3 linked regions of the Homo sapiens genome follow. The protein of the gene in region 3 interacts with the protein of the main gene of each other region in a pairwise test. Each region holds a gene or a part of one and is shown on either strand. Other genes may lie near its edges. The genes, in order: TMEM65, VAPA and CYBRD1.

Region 1 (3,753 bases), on a different chromosome or scaffold from region 3:
TTGAGGTCAGGAGTTCCAGACCAGCCTGGCCAACCTGGCAAAACCCCACCTCTACTAAAAATACAAAAATTAGCCAAGTGTGGTGGTGTGTGCCTGTAGTCTCAGCTACTCAGGGAGGCTGAAGCAGGAGAATCGCTTGAACCCGGGAGGCAGAGGTTGCAGTGAGCCAAGATCACACCACTGCACTCCAGACTGAGTGACAGCACGAGACTCCGTCTCAAAAAAGAGAAAGAAAACTAATACAAAGTCTTACAGCTTCTACCCAGCCCCCTTGGAACATTTTCTCTGGGATCCCTGACCTAAGTATTACAACCATGCTAACATTGTCATGCTGGTGAGGCCACATCCATCTCCTTGGGTCAACAGTTCCAGTTGAGGCCAGCCCTCCAGCCATCCACCAAAGTACCAGACACATAAACAAACCGATGTTGGACCTTCTGACCAGACCATCAGCCAGCCAAAGTTTATGTAATGACCTCCATAGATACCATAAGAAACAGCATCCAGCTGAGCCCTGCCTATATCCTTTTTTTTTCAATTTTATTTTTTTATTTCCTATGAACTCTGTACCTGCAACTGCCTATATTCTTGATCCACAAAATCATGAGCTATGATAGAAGGGTTGTTATTTGAAGTCACACGTAACTCTGGACATGTTATATGTAAGTGATGATTAAACACTGTTAAACAGCATATATGCCTTTCATAATGGAAAAAAAAAAACTTTACTTGATTACTTGATTATCTGTCTTCTACTGGCAGTAATCCCTAGTAATAAGACCATTCCAACATACCCCGTAACTCTAAAGAACTCAGAATTAAGCTTGCTGAAATATACTACTGTAATTAGGTTCTTTCCATATTGGTAAAATAACTGATTGTAGCAAAGCTTCATTTAACTGAGTGTAACTCAACTTATAGAAGCCCATGGCTCATCAGAGATCTCTCACTCCTCTTGCCTCAATTCATACTTCTTATCCACGTCCTTGTTCTTCCCCTCTTGCCGGGCCTAGGTGGGGCTATACTTCCCTTATTCCTTTTTACTATCTCAACAAAGGCACTGAAATATCTTTATTCACGTATCTTTATTTGCAGTATAAAATGTTTTTCTTGCCCTTTTTCTTATTGGACAAAAGCAAACTATTCCCAATCCATTCCAGAGGCTCATAGCTTAAAATAATTTATATTTAGGCTAGGCACGGTGCTCACAGCTGTAATCCCGGCACTTTGGAAGGCTAAGCTCGGTGGATCACCTGAGGTCAGGAGTTCGAGATGAACCTGGCCAACATGGTGAAACCCCACCTCTACTAAAAATACAAAACTTAGCCAATCACAGTGGTGCATGTCTGTAATCCCAGCTTCTCAGGAGGCTGAGGCAGGAGAATCGCTTGAACCTGGGAGATGGAGTTGCACTGAGCTGAGATCGCACCACTGCACTCCACCCTGGGCAACAGAGTGAGACTCTGTCTCAAAAAATAAAAAAAATTTAAGAAAAGAATTTCTATTTTCTCACATAATCCTGAGCAATGGGCTGAAAAAAAATAAGGATAATCTTGTTAAAGGTCCAAGATCTCTAGTGAACAGGGATTCCATAAGAAAGCCTAATTTATTTTTAAGTGTTTTAGATACTCAATTTAGTATAAGCTCTTTATCTTTCAGTCTTTCATTTTGTCAACGTCCTCTTATACTATATGGCAAGTTCTCAAAACAAAGCTCTTCACCCTACCTTAAACAATCACAAAAAATGGGGGACTACAAGATTAAAGTTTAGAATTATTTGGTTAATGTATACAGACGTAGATAAATGGTAAAAAATGTCAAAAGCACACAATTACCACTCACATAGAGTAATCAAAAAATGCAAGCTAATTGAGACCTAACATTGATAGAAAAACTGCTCTGTTCACCTCAATACATCTTTTATTTGCTATATGTAAAAACAATCTCATTTTTTAAATATCTTAAGTATACATATTATAACAAAAATATTCCCTAAGAGGCTCCCTTTTTCAAAACATATCTCTCATTGTACCTCTCCAATAGCCAGTTCTTGTCTCTCTGTGTAAACTCTCTGATGAGCATTAATTACACCACCTTAAATAATGTGGAAGCCAACCTCAAAGATGTACCCCCGATGATTCCCACTCCCTTGTATTCACACCTTGTGTAGTACTCTCCCACAATGTGTCAGGACAAAAGAGATGGACTGTCACTTCGAAGACTGCGTTTTAAAAGTCTGTGGCTTATAGTATACATATTATAACAAAAATATTCCCTAAGAGGCTCCTTTTTTCAAAACATATCTCTCATTTTACCTCTCCAATAGCCAGTTCTTGTCTCTCTGTGTAACTCTCTGATGAGCATTAATTACACCACCTTAAATAAGTGTGGAAGCCAGCCTCAAAGATGTACCCCCGATGATTCCCACTCCCTTGTATTCACACCTTCTGTAGTACTCTCCCACAATGTGTCAGGACAAAAGAGATGGACTGTCACTACTAAGACTGTGTTATAAAAGTCTGTGGCTTCCAGCTTAGGTGCCCACAGGTGCTGTCTTGCAAACACACTCGCTCTCTCTTGCTCTCTCGCTCTCTCATCACTTGCTCTAGAGGAAACCCACTGCCATGTCATGAGAATACTCAGGCAGCCCTGTGGAGGACCACATGGGAGGGAATTGAGACATCCAGCCAACAGCCATGTGAGTGAGACTTCTTGGAAATGGATCCTCCAGCCCCAGTTAAGACTTCAGATGATGCCACCCCAGCTGAGAGCTTGATTTCAACTTCTTAAGATCCTGGGCCAGAAATACTCAACTAAGATGCTATAGCATTCCTGAGCCTCAGAAATTATGAGTTAATACATGCTTGTTTTAAGCCACTGTGTTTTAGGATAATTTGTTATACCGCAATGGATAACTAATACAATGAGCACTGTCTATTTTTCAATACCAAATTGCTATATTTTAAAAGCTTTAAAAAATAATTATAAATGGAAATATTAATTACAAAAATTGGGAAGAAAATTTGTTTTAAAAATTTTGGCTAACATTGAAAGGCCACTGTAATAATGTCAGCTTGCCAGTACTACTTGTAAAAACATGAATAATGCTCTATCAGCAGAATATGGTCTGTTTCTGGAAGAAGAGAGATCAGGCTGAGCAGGTAAATTGAAGGCGCAAACTCAACTTTTTTTTAAATTGGGAAAGAAATTGGTTTGTAATTTTAAAAATCACAATATTCTATTTAACTATGATAAGATATCCCACAAGGTCTGCCTTATCTATTACGAACTGATTCCAAAGCTTTATCTCATCACAGATTATATCACATGCCTACTGATAAACATATAAGAAAGATAAGGGCAAATGTGCCAAATTTCAACAGCAGATTCCACTGCCATATCAAAGCATGGATGATATTTTTTCAGTAACATTTCCATACCAAATCCAAAACACTTCATTAGTTTATACAAGCACCCTTTCCAAAGACACACAAGATTGCCTATGGCAAGAAATAGCCCTTTAAATAGAATTAATTTTGTTAGAAAGTACACTTAGTACACACACACAATACATCGGTTGAGTACTTCAAAACATTATTCAAAAAGCAACAATAAAAGAAAACATGGGAGTTTTTCATTTATCTGGCTGGAAAAAAATTGTTGATTTCAGCAATGGAATGAGCTGTACGCATTCCCAACATAATAAAATCCCTTTTACCTTAATGATTAATGAATAAGGTAATTTCCTAAGTG
Region 2 (3,753 bases), on a different chromosome or scaffold from region 3:
TGTACACAGACCTGGGCCTAAAATACTTCACTGCACCACATCCAGTTCTAAAATCCAATTTCCTTTTCAGGTAGAGCGCATCTTTTAAAAAAAGAGCCAACACACCTATGTTTAAGAATAAAAATTCACTTGTACTAGATTGTATGTAGCTAAACACTGGATCTATTTTCTGATTCCAAAATTTTCTATCCTAGTATGAATAAATGAAGAATAGGACAAACCTAAGTGCAGGAAAGTATCAAACCCTGTAACGCATACTTATACTGAAAATGTGTTTCACATGGTTAACATTTGCAAAGGCTAAAATCATTTTTCATAAAGAAAATTCCACAGGCTTGCTCAGTATTACCAAACTTCCATAATGAACATTATTTTGAGTGCCAAATTGAGCACGAAAAAAACACCTACTTTTAACTATTATGAAATATTATGAAAAGTAGTAAGACTTATTTATTAGGCTGGTTAAAAAGTAATTTAAAACCAAAGAGAGTTAAATCTTCCTTGAGAACATACTCTCAGAACTTAAGAATGGGGTAAATCAGATGGAGCACAGCCATGCTGTACACATCAACTCACTGAAATCACATAACTTCTATTCTCATGGACCTTATTTTCTATTATCTTGAAAACAAACTGATTATAATCTCCCAAAATACCAGTGGTACCTTAAAATTTAATCAACTCCTTTCCTTAACAGAATTAGGACTTTCAATTAAAAATACTGTAATATCCAAGAGGGTTTCAATGCAAGAGAAACCTTTGCATCATAATTTCAAGTGACCATATATAGTGGAGTTCCCTCTAATAACACGACAGACACAAACAAGCTATCGAGCAAGAATCTGTTAACAGTTTTATTTTTTTTTATGTTAAATACCATGGGACAGGATTGTAAGGATGAAAAACTCAGTCAACAACTGCCTCACAAGGGATAAGAAAAATTCTGCCATGATATTAGCAAAGGTAAAGGAGGAAAAATTTACACTGTAAGAGGCACCATTTCCCCAAGGAATACCTCTTGGCATTTCCTGAATGAGTGGGATTAGCAATCTAAATAAATCATATTTCAAGAGGTAACAGCAACAGATAAAATTTAAAGGGATTATTAAAATAACATTTACAAGACTCTGAACAATTCTTGAACTCTTATTAAAACCACAAAGAAAGAACAATTCTTTATTTATGAATTTCATAAAGGACTCAATGTGCAACTGACATCTGCTAGTGATGATCTGGTAATATACAACCTGTCCAGTAGCCGAACAGTTTGTTTTTATTGTGTTTTCTAACCGTAAGAGATCATTAAAGGCAAAGCCTATATGACGCTGTACACACAAAAAAATGGTCACCGTGGGCCATACTACCAATGAAATGGTAGGTAAACAAATCTTTTTCTGGTCAAGAGAAAAAAAAAAAAAGAAACAGCACTCTGCATGCTTCACTCTACAAGATGAATTTCCCTAGAAAGAATCCAATGAAAATGGCTGCAATTACAACAAGAAGTGAAGGAAGAGGACTGGTGACATTATCTCTGAAGGATGCAGTTGAGGTTGATCCAGGTTTATCCGAATGTGCTACCTTTCTGAGCCTTAAACCTTCATCCTAGAAAAAAAACACACACACAAAAGGTTTTTAAAAACAAGCATACTAACGAGACTACTGGAGCTAAAAATCTATAGGGACGGAAAGTAGATTAGTGGTTGCCTATGGCTGGGGACGGAAAAGGGGATTAACTGCTAACCACATAAGGAAACTTTCCGGGGGTGATAGACATTCTAAAACTGAACTATAGTGATGGTTACAAAGTTCTATGTATCAATGAATTGTACACTCACAGTGGGTGTCTCCATGGGATATAAATTATACCTCAATAACACTGATTTTTTAAAACTGGAGCTGAGAAATGTATTCCTAAAAAGCAAAAGTTAGATAGGCTATATTTACCTTTTTTTAAATCCCACTAAAAATATAATTAAAGAAGAGTACTTCCAAGGTGGCCCATGGTATTTAAAATCAGTTACATCCGTCCTAGCCCAATCAGCCAAAAACTACCCAGACCTGTAGTCTGCCATTTGGGTTTACTGACACACTGCAACTAAGGAACCGGAACAGCAGAGGCACAAAAGGGTGTTCTTGCCGTAAACAGAGATATGGTATCACAGAATTTGGGGGAAGGAAACAGTTTAGCGTGAAATTTAAGTAACAGTGTTTTTATATGCTCAAAGCAAAGCAGAGGGCTGTGTGTAAAGTGGTAGCACCAGGTCTCGACTGCAAAGCAGAGAAAGAATACTGTTTCTTCAGAAACTACAAATTTAGATGAGAAATGTACATAGGAAACCCTTATCTGAAGCTCTGCACCTGGACTGGAAAATGAGGGTGCTTCTCTGTGTCAAAATGACTTAGATCCTCCAGTCAAGAGTAGGCTGCTTCATTCTTGCTGATATGGCTTCACACAGCACTATGTCTTTAGAGCAGAAGGTTTCTCAGAAGAAAGCAGAAGTCACTCCAAGCAGGAGGTTGTTATGACACTGTGTGCAATGTGAACCTTGGGAAAAATACTAATACCTGTTAACTACACAGTTGTCTTTATCTCTGTCTGTTAACCAATCTGATAAATGGCAGGACAGTTTTTTACTTTTTTCAGTACAAGGCAATATTTTCTCCCATGATTCCTTTATTGTGCTTATAAATAAACACTAACTAAAAGAGTACACCTAATGGCACAGTTTTATTTGCATTACTGGATTTTCTGGAGTTGGGTTTTTTTGGTCTCATGCTAATTAGTCCTATATAAACAGTAATTCTCAGTTTCAGCTACACATCACAAACATCTACAGAACTTTTAATACTCCTGTGATTGTGACTCATTAGGTCTGGGGCAAGCCTGGTCAACTGTAACTTTTTAAAGCTCACTAGGTGATTCACATGCAGTGTGAATTAAGAACCACAGGGCTAGGGGAATTAAAAGGGATAGTGAACAGACAGGAGCAAGAAAGTGAACCTGGCAAAAAATTATGGTGGGCCTGTGTATAGGGTCTGAAATTCTGTAAGCCAGTGGGTCTTCAAGGGTTTTGTTTTTTTTTTTTTTTTGAGACGATGTTTTGCTCGTCACCCAGGCTGGAGTACAATGGCGTGATCTCGCTCACTGCAACCTCTGCCTCCTGGGTTCAAGTGATTCTCCTGCCTCAGCCTCCCAAGTAGCTGGGATTACAGGCACCCACCACCACACCCGGATAATTTTTGTATTTTTAATAGAGACGGGGTTTCACCACGTTGGCCAGGCTGGTCTGGAACTCCTGACCTCAGGTGATCCACACGCCTCAGCCTCCCAAAGTGCTGGGATTACCGGTGTGAGCCACCCGCCCAGCCCAGCTTTTTTGTTTTACTTTTCCAGCAGCAGAATCATCTCTCAAATAAAATCTCATACAGAACACTAGCATAAAAAGAGTAGAAACCAGGAATAAAGTCTCTCTCACCTACTTCCCTGGTTCACTCTTCCTATTTTCCAGCCCTGCCCCATCTATGTCATTCTCACTGTTTCCACTTCTCCCCTCCCTGCCAGAGGTAAACAGTGGCTTTTGAAAGAAATCTATTGAGCACCCTAAGGAGCACATCTTTATCAAAGAACAGAACTATGGAAGTCATGGCAGATGAAGTAAAAGTAACCAACAACATCCTTTAAAAGATCCATGGCGTGTAGGTGTGAAATAAAGATATTCTTTCCGCTACCCAGACAAGTGCTTGGAAGCAGAC
Region 3 (3,753 bases):
GTTTAAAGAACTGGCCAAACTTCCATCAATTTAGTAAATATTCATTGAATGTTTATTATGTGTTGGGTAATGCTATGGATACAGCATTGAAGAAAACAGACAAAATCCCTTCCTTCTGGGAGTTTATATTCTAGTAGGAGAAGACAGACAATAAATTAATAGTCAGTGATCAGAATTTAGATAATACTGTATTTTGAATTCAGAGTCTATAAGATTTTCTAGTGAAATGGCTGAGAAGTATGGAAGAGAAGAATCACAGATGACTGCATAATTTCGTCCTGAACGACTACAAGGATAAAGTTGCCATTTACTGAGATGGTGGAACCTATGGGAGGAGTTGGTTTTGCAGGCATGAGGAAGATCAAGAGCTGAGATTTGGACATGCCTATCTGATATTCAAGTAGAGAGTTTGAGTAGGCAAACAGATATTTGGATTTGGAGTTCAGGGAAGAGTCTGGGCTGAATATACAAATTTGAGAGGGTTCAGTGTATAGATAGTACTTAAAGCGAAGAAGAGACTGGATAAGATTGACCACCAAAGAAGTGAGTGTAGAAAAAAAGAAGTGGTCAGAAGACTGAGGCTTGAGCACTCTAACCTGCCGTCATCAGGAAGATGAGGAAGAACCAGCAAAGGAGACTGAGGATGGGGCAGCCAGGAAAGAGAGAAGAGCCATGAGAATCAGGTGTCCTGGAAGCCACCCAACTTACCAGGTGAAGAAAGAGAAGCCAAGTAAAGAAAGTGTCCCGGCCAGACGTGGTGGCTCACACTTCTAATCCCAGCACTTTGGGAGGCTGAGGCGGGTAGATCACCTGAGGTCGGGAGTTCAAGACCAGCCTGACCAACGTGGAGAAACCCCATCTCTACTAAAAATACAAAATTAGCTGGGCATCGTGGTGCATACCTGTAATCCCAGCTACTCTGGAGGCTGAGGCAGGAGAATCGCTTGAACCCGGGAGGCAGAGTTTGCGGTGAGCTCAAATCACACCATTGCACTCCAGCCTGGGCAACAAGAGCAAAACTCCATCTCAAAAAAAATAAAATAAAATAAAGTGCCCCAAGGAGGAGTGAGGGGTCAATTATGTCAAATGCTGCCTTCCACTCAAACACTATTAGGACTGAGAATTGACCAATGGAATTAGTGACATGGTAGTCATTAGCTACCATATTAAGCACAATTTTGGTGGAGCAGGAGATGAAAACCTAATTGGAACCGGCTCGAGAAAGAACAGGAAGAAAGGAACTAGAAACTGCAGGTATGGACAAAAATTTCAAAAGTTCATAGTAAGGCAAGCAGAGAACTGAGGCAGTAGCTGAGGGATATACAGGGTCAAGAGTGATTTTGTTTTGTTTTGCTTTGTTTTGTTTTCGAAGATGATAGAAATTATAACATGTTGGAAATAAGCCAGTTGGGGGAGAAACTTAATGATGCAGAAAAAGGAGGGAGAACTGGGATGAAGGGAAGAGGAGGTACAGATTGTACTTAAGCAGCAACATTCTCATCAGCTAGAGGCCTCAGAATAAAGATGCGTTTCCAGTGCAATATGATGTCCATTCTTCCTGGAGGTTGACTAAGCCAGTGCTTTTAAACTGGCTGAACAGGAGAATCACTAGGGAAAAGCGAGGGTGTGTTTACTTTAGACACTATTGTTATCGTCACAAGTAAGTGGCTGTAAACTGCATTTTGTTACTAACAATTCAATGATGGTACAGAAATAATCACTCATTCATTCAACAACCACTTACTCGTCTACCATGTGCCAGTTCTCAGTGTTATTCTAGGTACTGGGGATATAGCACTGAGCACCACAGTCATATCTAAAACATTTTTATTGGTTGCATTATTTAAAAATCTATGTGTATTTATTTACAACAAAAAATATGTTGGGGATATTTTTTGTGGTTTTGGTCACAAAATTGCTTTAAATCATCTCTTTACGCTTTGTAAAAACCCTTGTATCGCTAATATTGATAGGATTTATTATCAATGGTGTCCCTGAAGCTTCTTTTAGAGTAGGTATTTGGGACACTTTCTCCGTTATCTTACTTGCTGGATTTTACCCCAAGAGCCTTTTCAAGTCTATTTAAGTAATCTTGGAATTTGGTCACTTTTAGATAAATTAATAGGATATCCCAACTGTTTTTTAAGAACTGCTCTTAATTTCTGTTAGTCTTTTAAATGTTACTTAAAGGTAGTTATATTATCTCACGAAATCAACTTGAGATCATTAGACTATTTAATTTCTCTCCCTTCAGTTTATACAATAAAAGGAGTTCTACACAGGAAAGGAAGGAATATAGAATTGCCAAGACTTCTTTTCGCTAAATGTAGACACCCGAATTTTCTACCTTTCACTAAAGAACACATTCCACCTTGCTGAACCTTTTAAAAGGTCAACAGCCACTTTGACAGCGTTTATTTGTTTCAGTCTTTTCTGTGGCCCTCTTTTCAAGGTTCGTTTCTCTGATTTCCTAGTAGTATACTTATTTCATGGGAAACATTTCTTTCAGAGAAGCACAAAGCCTCTTCTAAACCCTTCCTCATTCATGTTAGAGTCTGTTAGCTAGATTTCCCACTAGTTTAAAATTTTATTTTAGTTTTAGATTTCCCATGATCTGTTATACTTTAATTTAGAATATATACATATTCCAAAATATACTTGGAGTATGGGAGGTGGGGAGAGAGAGGGGGAAAGGAGGGGAGAGAGAGGGGGAAAGGAAGGGAGAGGGACACAGAGGAGAAAATGGGACAAGGAGAGAGAGGGTGAGCGAGAAAGGGAAAGGGGAATAAAGAAGGAGAGGGAGATTTGTTTTGTAACTTCTATGTTAGCTTTGCTTCTTTGGAGTTTATCCCTCTTTTTTTTTCGAGACAGAATCTCACTCTGTTGCCCAGGCTACAGTGCAGTGGCACAATCTTGGCTCACTGCAACCTCCACCTCCCAGGTTCAAGCAATTCTCCTGTCTCAGACTCCTGAGTACCTGGGATTACAGGTGCCTGCCACCACGCCCAGCTAATTTTCGTATTTTTAGTAGAGACAGTGTTTCACCATGTTGGCCAGGCTGGTCTCGAACTCCTGACCTCAGGGGATCCACTCGCCTCAGCCTCCCAAAGTGCTGGGATTATAGGCGTAAGCCACCGTGCCCGGCCAGAGCCTACTTCTTTTTTTTTTTTTTTTTTTTTTTTTAGACGGGAGTTTCGCTCTTGTTGCCCAGGCTGAAGTGCAATGGCAAGATCTCGACTCACCGCAACCTCCGTTTCCCGAGTTCAAGCAATTCTCCTGCCTCAGCCTCCCAAGTAGCTGGACTGTGCCGGCCCAGAGCCTACTTCTTAAAGGTGTTTCAAAGGACTCATACTTGTTCTTAGTTTCAAATATTGTTTACTATTTGTATATTGCATTTCTAAAGCATTTTATACTTAGAGTAATAACTGTACTTTAGCCTTCTCTTCTTCATCTCCAAATATTTGTGTATTACAGAAGAGAAGAACTCCAATACATCGTGTTCTTTGTTAGAGATTTGAAATCTCATAGCCTAAAATTTTCCTCCTTGCAGCAATCACACACGGTAAAAAAGTCTGTTATAACATGGCGAGTCTGTAACATGTGGGTCCCTCGCAGCCTATAAAGTTTATTTATTACTCCCCCTCCTTCCACTGGAGCCTTCCTAATACTTAGGGTGAGGAATGTGGATGGGTTGGCCAAGATATGGAAGAACTGGGGAGAACTATACATGTGCCTACATGTATGAAAACATTT

Evidence for each region.
Region 1: the proteins of CYBRD1 (region 3) and TMEM65 interact in binary tests that used the Homo sapiens proteins (3 or more experiments, as listed by UniProt).
Region 2: the proteins of CYBRD1 (region 3) and VAPA interact in binary tests that used the Homo sapiens proteins (3 or more experiments, as listed by UniProt).

Annotation. Positions count from the first base shown.
Region 1 is NC_000008.11:124,366,003-124,369,755, forward strand, and holds part of TMEM65 (transmembrane protein 65), read right to left. Parts: intron 1-3,753. UniProt on the Homo sapiens protein: Essential for maintaining proper cardiac intercalated disk (ICD) structure and function as well as cardiac conduction velocity in the heart.
Region 2 is NC_000018.10:9,951,902-9,955,654, reverse strand, and holds part of VAPA (vesicle-associated membrane protein-associated protein A), read right to left. Parts: intron 1,603-3,753; coding exon 1,444-1,602; 3' UTR 1-1,443. UniProt on the Homo sapiens protein: Endoplasmic reticulum (ER)-anchored protein that mediates the formation of contact sites between the ER and endosomes via interaction with FFAT motif-containing proteins such as STARD3 or WDR44.
Region 3 is NC_000002.12:171,525,378-171,529,130, reverse strand, and holds part of CYBRD1 (plasma membrane ascorbate-dependent reductase CYBRD1), read right to left. Parts: intron 1-3,753. UniProt on the Homo sapiens protein: Plasma membrane reductase that uses cytoplasmic ascorbate as an electron donor to reduce extracellular Fe(3+) into Fe(2+).